Linked DNA regions of Homo sapiens: region 2 is linked to region 1. The links come from fine-mapping of genetic effects on gene expression. A gene starts in region 1. The other region holds a variant in brackets. All regions are shown on one strand. Distances are between the middles of the regions.

What was found.
Region 2: its variant is fine-mapped to the expression of F12 in liver (GTEx, PIP 0.93).

What each region holds. Positions count from the first base shown.
Region 1 is chr5:177,407,614-177,411,996 of GRCh38, forward strand. It overlaps F12 (coagulation factor XII), which reads right to left and starts at 1,951. Exons shown (of 14, transcript NM_000505.4): 1 at 1,858-1,951; 2 at 1,433-1,490. The coding sequence starts at 1,914.
Region 2 is chr5:177,506,764-177,511,146 of GRCh38, forward strand. DOK3 (docking protein 3) reads right to left here and starts at 3,063. Exons shown (of 6, transcript NM_001308236.3): 1 at 2,995-3,063; 2 at 2,712-2,894; 3 at 1,474-1,779. The coding sequence starts at 2,777. RefSeq lists enhancers at 1,319-1,428, 1,449-1,498, 3,319-3,468 and a silencer at 3,049-3,188. The variant C/T (reference allele first, on the strand shown) is at 1,783.

The DNA.
Region 1 (4,383 bases):
GTCTCTACTAAAAAATACAAAAATTAGCTGAGCATGAAGTTGTGTGCCTGTAATCCCAGCAACTCGGGAGGCTGAGGCAGAGAATCGCTTGAACCCAGGAGGCGGAGGTTGCAATGAGCCAAGATCGCGCCATTGCACTCTAGCCTAGGGGACAGAGCGAGACTCCATCTCAAAAAAAAAAAAAGATGCAGATGGGATGGACGGACAGAGAGGAGGGGGACCTTAGGCAGGGGATTAGGCAAGGATAGGGCACCAAGTTTGGGTAAGGCAAGAGAGAGGAGAAACTTTTGGGTGTGGGGTGAAGAGAGGAGGCTGAGGGAGTCCAGGGTTGGAATGTGCTGGGCCTCAACGCCATGCTTAGAGACTCAACCCCACCAAGTCAGGCCCACCAGGGTAAGGTCCATCTGGTTCACAGGCCCTGCTATGTGCCACACTCTAGGTAAATTTTTTTTTTTTTTTTGAGACGGAGTCTTGCTGTGTTGCCCAAGCTGGAGTGCAATGGTGTGATCTTCGTTCACTGCAACCTTCACCTCCCAGGTTCAAGCAATTCTTCTGCCTCAGCCTCCCGAGTAGCTGGGACTACTGGCGCATGCCACCATGCCTGGCTAATTTTTGTACTTTTAGTAGAGACAGCATTTCACCATGTTGGCCAGGCTGGTCTCGAACTCCTGACCTCATGATCCACCGACCTTGGCCTCCCAAAGTGCTGGGATTACAGGCATGAGCCACCATGCCTGGCATGTAGGTAATTTAGTGTCTGGAAGAATGAAAGCAATGGGGAGCTATGGCAGAGCTTGAGGAAGGGGGAAATGGCAGGTACCCTTCATCTAAAAGGTAGTTTCATAATAAAAGCTAATATTTGTAAAGCATTTCCATGCACCAGGTGATGGGCTGAATACCTCACATGGGTTTCCCTTCTCAACAACCCTAAGAGGTTTACTGTTATCAACCTGGTTTCACAGAAGGGGAAATTGAAGCTTGGAGAACTCAAATCCCTCGCCCAGAGTCACCCAGCTCATAAGTGATAAAGCTGGGCTTCAGAGGCATTCAGATGCCAGAGACAAGCTCTTGATCCTTCCTTGCCCATTGAAGGCCCTGGCCTCTGTGTGGCATGAATGATGCCCATGAGACGTACTGGGGAAAGGAAAAGAAGGGGAGAAGCTGGGGAAACTGAGGAAGGCTGGCAGGAGCCCAGGTGTGATGGCGCCAGCAGCACATATCTCAAGCACCTGCTCCGAGCCAGGCTCGTGGGCACTTAGACACAGCCCATACCCTGCCCTCAAGGATCACACAGCTCACGATCACTCTAGTGCCCATGGGCATAAGACCTAGCACCAGGTAGGCACTAGACTAGACTGCCCTGAGACTGCACACACTGCACCATACACATCCCCACCCAAGGGTTCCCGGGAGGAGGAGCCAGGCCACTTACCGACTGTGTGCTCTTCAGCTTTGTACTTATGCTCCTTGGGGGCTTCCCAAGGTGGAATCTACAAGGGAGAGAAGAAGGCAGGGAACTGACTATAAGTCATAGCCTGCCACCGATCTGTTGCTAGTCTGCAGCTTCCTCTCACAGCCCAGAAATGCAGAGATTTCTTCCCAAGACCCAAACCCTTTCTACCTCCCCCCGTTGTCTTCTTAAGGCCCATCTCCCCCAGAAATGCAGGCTGTGCCCTTGTATCCACCCAGTCTGGTTGTCTGTCTCCTCTGCCTGGGCCTTCCGGGCTGGCCTCACCTTTCCACATAGGCCTCCTAGTCACCTGGACCCACAGGTCATGAGCAGAGGCCATGGCTCATGGCTGTGATAGCGACCCCCCAGAACAATCCTGGGACAATCCTGGTTCCCACAGCACTCACCGAAAGTGTTGACTCCAAGCTCACCAGCAGGAACCCCAGGAGCAGCAGAGCCCTCATGGCATCCGTCCGTTGGTCCAGCTGCCTATCCAGGAGTCCAGATCAATAGGACTGGCCAAAGGTCTTGGAAATAGAGATTGGTCAAGCTGCCCTCCTGAGCCTGGTGGGGCACAGGCTGTTTGTGGAAAGCCAAGTGGAGCAACTTCCTTGGTCACCCCTTGAGGGCCGGAAAGTTGGGAGTTTGTGGGTGGGGGTGAAATGAAGAGCTGGGCTCCTCCTCTCTTTTCTAGATAGTGGGACTGGAAGCAGAAGAAGGGACATTCTTATGCTCTGGGTCCTGTGGAGATCAGGAGGTTAAGGAGATCAAAGATCATGGGGATCTTGGAGTCCACTGTGAAGTGTGTTCATTTTCTATTGTCATGTAACAAACTACCATAAACTCAGCATCTTACAACAATACCCACTTTTAATTTTCTTTTTTTTTTTTTTTTTTTTGAGACGGAGTCTCGCTCTGTCGCCCAGGCTGGAGTGCAGTGGCGCAATCTCCGCTCACTGCAAGCTCCGCCTCCCGGGTTCACGCCATTCTCCTGCCTCAGCCTCCCGAGTAGCTGGGACTACAGGAGCCCACCACCACGCCCAGCTAATTTTTTGTCTTTTTAGTAGAGACGGGGTTTCACCATGTTAGCCAGGATGGTCTCGATCTCCTGACCTCGTGATCCACCCGCCTCGGCCTCCCAAAGTGCTGGGATTACAGGCCTGAGCCACTGCACCGGGCCATGTGTCGCCTTTTAAGAACTCACCTGACTAGGTCAGGCCCACCAAAGCCATTCTCCTTTTTTTTTTTTTTTTTGAGACAGAGTCTGGCTCTGTCACCCAGGCTGGAGTGCAGTGGCACGATCTTGGCTCACTGCAAGCTACGCCTCCCGGGTTCACGCCATTCTCCTGCCTCAGCCTCCTGGGTAGCTGGGAATACAGGCACCCGCCACCACGCCCAGCTAATTTTTTGTATTTTTAGTAGAGATGGGGTTTCACTGTGTTAGCCAGGATGGTCTCGATCTCCTGACCTCGTGATCTGCCCGCCTTGGCCTCCCAAAGTGCTGGGATTACAGGTATGAGCCACCATGCCTGGCCCTGCCATTCTCCTTATTTTAAGGTCAAACAATTTGGGACTTAAATTACATGTGCAAAATTCTTTCACAGAAGCATCTACATTCATGTTTGACAGAATAACTGGGAGGTGTGCAAACACCAGGGGTAGAGATCTTGGGGCCATCTTAGCATTCTACCAACCACAGGAAGTGAGGCAAGAAAGCAAATGATTTAATGAGAAAAGTGCTAAACCAAGGGGCACTAAGATGTGCAGCTGGAACATGAGAAGAAGACGGGGTGCACATGTGCTGCCCAGCATCTGTCCTGGTTCGGTAATGACACTTTGATTTTTCCTTTAGCAACGACTCCTCTCTTACTTCTTCCATGGGCTCTAGTGCTGCCAACTCTACCCTCAGAGCTAGGGCTAGAGATGTGGCCTAGGTCTGGTCAATCAGAGCATGACATCTCTAATCCACAGTGATTGGTTCAGAGATAAGCATATACACAATTTAGGCCAATTAAAGTGCTAGCTTGGGACTTTTGCCAGAACTTTTGGGAAAGCAAAAAAGTTGCACTGGGGTTACTAAGCACAGAGCATGTGGGTCTGAACACATTGATGATCACCTTTGTCACTCTCTAGGGAGGGCCTGTTTGAGAATGAAGCCTACACATAGGAAAAGCAAAGCAAACAGGGCAGGAAGGATGGAAAGATGCTGTGGTAGACAGCCTCAAAGACAGCCCCCATTGATCCTCACCACCTAGGATTCATGCCCTTGTATGGTGTCTTCCCACATTGAGTTAGGGCTGTTCTGTGTGTCCATCAGAATATGACAGAAGTGGCTGGGTGTGGTGGCTCACACCTGTAATCCCAGCACTTTGGGATGCCAAGGCAGGCAGATCACTCTAGGTCAGGAGTTCAAGACCGGCCTGGCCAACGTGTTGGCCAAACCCCATCTCTATGAAAAATACAAAAATTAGCCGGGCGTAGTGGCGTGTGCCTGTAATCCCAGCTACCCGTGAGGCTGAGGCAGGAGAATCGCTTGAACCCAGGAAGTGGAGGTTGTAGTGAGCAGAGATTGTGCCATTGCACTCCAGCCTGGGCGACAGGGACTGTCTCAAAAAAAAAAAAAATATGGCAGAAGTGAGGGTGTTGGACTTCCAAGCCCAGGTCATAAAAGACATTGCAGTTTCTGCCTCGGTCTCTTAGGTTGCTCACTCTGGAGGAAGCCAGCCACTGTGTTGTGAGGACACACATGCAGCCCTGCAGAGAAGCCCATGTAGGGAGAAAGGAAAGCACCCTGCTGACAGCCAGTGCCAATTGGACAGCCACATGAATAAGCTGCCTTGGAAGTGGATACTGCAGCCCTCGCTGACATTTGGCTTGCAATCTTATGAAAGACCTCAAGGCAAAACTGACCATCAGAAACTGTGATAAATCAT
Region 2 (4,383 bases), 99 kb after region 1:
CCGCAACCTCTGCCTCCCAGGTTCAAGCAATTCTGCCTGCCTCAGCCTCCCGAGTAGCTGGCATTACAGGCATGCACCACCATGCCCAGCTACTTCTGTATTTTTAGTAGAGACGGGGTTTCTCCATGTTGAGGCTGGTCTCGAACTTCTGACCTCAGGTGATCCGCCCGCCTCGGCCTCCCAAAGTGCTGGGATTATAGGCCTGAGCCACCGCACCCGGCCACCAGTGCTTTTTAGTATACTCACAAGGCTGTGCACTGTTGCCACTGTCTAGTTCCAGAACTTTTCCATCATCCCACATGGAAGCCCTGTACCCATGAGCAGCCACTCCCCACTTCTCCCTTCCTCCAGCTCCTGCCAACACTCATCTGATTTCTATCCCAATGGAGTTACCTTGTCTGTACATTTCTTTCTTTCTTCTTTTCTTTTTTTTTTTTGAGACAGGGTCTCACTATGTTGCCCAGGCTGATCTTGAATTCCTAGGCTCAAGCAATCCTCCTACCTCAGCCTCCCAAAGTGCTAAGATTACAGGCAAGAGCTACTGTGCCAGGCGTTTGTTTGTTTTTATGGCTGAGTAGTATTCCATCTTGCGGACGGACCACGTTTTGCTTATCCATTTGTCAGCTGATGGCCATGTAGGCTGTTTCCACCTTCTGGTGGCTGTGAGTAGTGCTGCTATGGACGTTCATGTCCATGTGGGTTTTTTTTTAAGATAGGGTCTTGCTCTGTCTCCCGGGCTGGAGTGAAGTGGCACGATTACAGCTCACTGCAGCCTCGACCTCTGGGGCTCATGCGATCCTCCTGCCTCACATGTACATGTTTTGTTTGAACACCTGTTCAAGTTCTCTTGGGCACACACCTAGGAGTGGACCTGTGGGCCACATGGTAACTCTGTTTACCTCTTTGAAGAACCCCCAGGCTCACTTCCTTTTGACCCATCACAGACCTTTTGGGGCTTTACAAACATGTCCGGCTTAAACCCTCCAAAGCCTTCGCCTCTCACTCAGAACAAAACCACACACATGGCCTAGGGCATTTCAGCCGCTCTCCTAAGCTCTGTGAGTTGGCTTCCTCCTGCACTCCTTTCCTTCCAGCCACGTCGCCTTCTTTCTGCCCTTAAACACCCCACACTGTCCGGCCTCGGGGCCTCTGCCCACGGGACTCCCTCTGTTCACAACTCCCCAGGCTGCCCCTGTCCTCAGACCTTTGCCCAGTGGGTTCCTGTCATTCAGGGCCCTCCTCTGAGAGGCCTTCCCTGGCCACCCTGCCCGTCGCTCCCTCACTTCCTCCTGCTCCCCTGGCGGTCCATTTTCTCCATGGCACGCACGGCCCTCTGAGAGTCATTATAGATTTACTTTTCCCAGGCTTGTAGGTGCTCGGTGGAGCTTGCTGGGTGATGGGATGTGAGCGTGGAGGTGGACAAGTCGGGGGCAGGTGCCCCAGCCCAATCGCCCCCCTGCTCGCCGCACTCACCGGGAAGGCCAGCTGGCAGATGGGGCCCATCCAGGCCTGGCGGTGCTGAGCAGCCAGTAGATGGCTTCGCTCGGTGGTGGTGAGCAGGAAGGCACCGGTGTCCCGGGGGCAGCTCTCGCCGTCAGCCGGCAGCACGGACACACAGTCAGCCAGGCGGATGACCCGTCGCTCCCCTCGCCGGCCAGGCCCTGCCGACCTGTCACCCGCTGCTCCCAGGCCACCATCCCGGACCTCCCAGCTCTCCAGCCGTGCCACGCCTGATGGGCCTCCTGCATACAGCAGAGCCCACACCTTCCGCCAGCACTTCTG[C/T]GGGAGGGGAGCGGGAGGGTGAAGACCCTTGGGTGGCAGATTGTCCGTGCCACTTGGCTCAGCACAAGCTGCTCGGCAAACGCTCCCAGCCAGGAGCGGGCCTCTGCTCCCCAGTTTCTCAGGGAGCCAGGTAAGGAGGCCTTGGCTATGCTTGGGATTGGTCAGCCCTGGGTTCAAATCCCAGCCCGCTCTTTCCTAACTGTGACCTCCACAAGCATCAATGTCGTCTCTCAAAAGGCCATGAGAACTCGAGCTGGGACTGCTACTGGGTCATGTTTGTAAAGCATCCAGTGGCCGGGCAGACCACCAGACACTGCCATTATATTGGTTCCCTCTCACCCCCAAAAAGGGGCACTTGGGCCACAGGCCAAGAGCTGGGGTGGGAGGGAGGCCTCTGCCTCAAGCTGTTAAGGAAGGAAACATGCAAATAGCTTCGAGCAAAGGAAACTGACGGTTTATCTGCCTGGGCAGCAGCTGCAGCTGAGCTGCGGGGGTGTGGGGCTGCTGCCGAGGAGAGGTGACCCCCTGCCTCCTTGCTCCCAGGACAGTGCCGCTGCAGGGAGGGGCTCCACCCTTGAGGCCTCCTCCAGCTCAGCCCCTCACCCTATTTAGGGCCCTCGGTGGCACTATTTCATGGGTCAGAGGCTGTGAAGCTCTTCCCTGCTGGGAGGTTTGAGCCTTCGACCCTCTCCCACTCCTGTATTTCCCATCTCTCCCGGAGGCAGGGTCTGGCAGAGCCTGCTCAGCCCCTGCCGTCTCAGGCTGACACCCGCACTCCATTCCACTCCCCATACCTGGGTGGGATCCTCCACCCTGACTCCCTTCCCAAGTCTCCCAGGTCTGCCTGGGCTGTCCGAGGCAGGGGCAGAGGCTGCATTCTCCACCCACTGTTGGTCCTTGGCAGCTGCCTGGCAGCCAGGGGTCCCCACCTTGCCAAACTTGACATGCTGCTGGTAGAGGATGCCATCCTTGATAGGGGTCTCCAGAGGGTCCATGGTCACGGCCAGGAGCAGGGCCGCCGCTTCAAGACCTGGGGAGACTGATGACAGGCTGGACGGGAACTCCTCACACTTCCCCTTCTGGCCACTTCCCGTCCCTCCGTCTAGAGACAGCTGCAGGCCGGGGGGAGGGGAGCCTGTCTTCAGCTCAGGGGCTGGGGGCAGCATGTATTTCCTCCCTGGGGTTCTGGCTGCCCAAGGTGCCCACACCTACCTGGAGGGAGCCCCCGGCCACCTGAAGGCAGCCTTCTCACGCACCTGGTTCAGCTGGGCACGCGCGTCTGATCGCAGTCTGGCTCCCCGAGTCATGAGTTCCCGCCCCTCCCCCGTCCCGCCCCGGGCAGCTGCGCACCCTGGGCCTGACACTCCCTGGCCCTGCCTCCACCCAGGACCCTTCTCTAGCCAACTCCTGGCTTTCCCACTCGGCGTCCTGGTTTGAGCGCCTCACCCCATCTTGCTGCTTTTCTTTCTCCCTGAAATCTCTCTCGTGTTCACCTGCTCCTCTCCACCTCACGAGCCACTGAACATCACCAGCCTTTGGCATCCCCCCAGGGGCCACTGCCCCACTGGGCCTCCATGCAGCACTCTCCACAACCCAAGACCAACCTGTCTCTCCCCTTCCTGGGGTGCAGCCCAGGCTCCTCAGCCCAACACTCAGGGACCTGTGTGTTCTGGCCTGCATCTCCCCCAGGCCAGCCCCTCCAGGGCCCCCTCACCACTGTGCTGCCTGGGGCGGTTGGCCACCTCTTCCTCCTGGAGGCCTCCCTTGACCACTCCACGCTGTCCGAGAGCTCAAAGGCCCTCACGGTATACACTCACGCTGGGCATCCAGTCCACATGGGACCCACAGCCCTGAATGGCCCCAACCACGTGAGTGTGGGTGGCAGGTCCCAGGGGGCCCCGGAGAGGTCACATGTTCATTTAAAGCTTTGCTTCCTGCTGGGGGCGCCTTTTGTTGGCTTGCCTAGCAAGATGCCAATAGCGGGGCTGTGTGTATACCTTTATTCTGGAACAGCCTCAGGTCATTCAGCACCACCTCTGGGAGAGAACATGGAAGAGGATAAGGAATGCCATTTGGGAATGCACTTGGCCAGGAAATATGTCCTGAAGGCCTCCTGGCACCCAGCTCTGTGCCCACTGTGGCCCAAGCAGCCCTAAGCTCCGTCCACCTCAGACGCCACATCCTTTGCGTTCTCATCGCCATTTCAACAGTGAGGAAATCGGTGCTCAGAAAAATTAAGTAACTTGCCCAATGCCACATATCAAGTGACAAATATGGCTTGAGCAACCGCTGTCTCACTGGAATGAGCATGTGGCCATACATGCAAAGTGCCTGGCTCAGAGGAAGTGTGGCCGCCTGTGCCGTCCCTGCCTACCTCTCACCAGATGCTGAGATCCTGCCTCATCTGCTAGCGGTCTTGTGACTGCCGTCCACGTTTCTGCGTGTGCGTCTTTCTCTCCCCTCGCCTGACGGCTTCCCAGGCAGCCATCTCCCTGGCCCATCTAGGTCCTCACAGCTCAGCAGAGCTGGGCACAGAGCAGGCTTAGGGAGAGCTTGTGGCCTAAATGGCAGTTCTATGACATCTGCTGCCTCCTCAGTCAA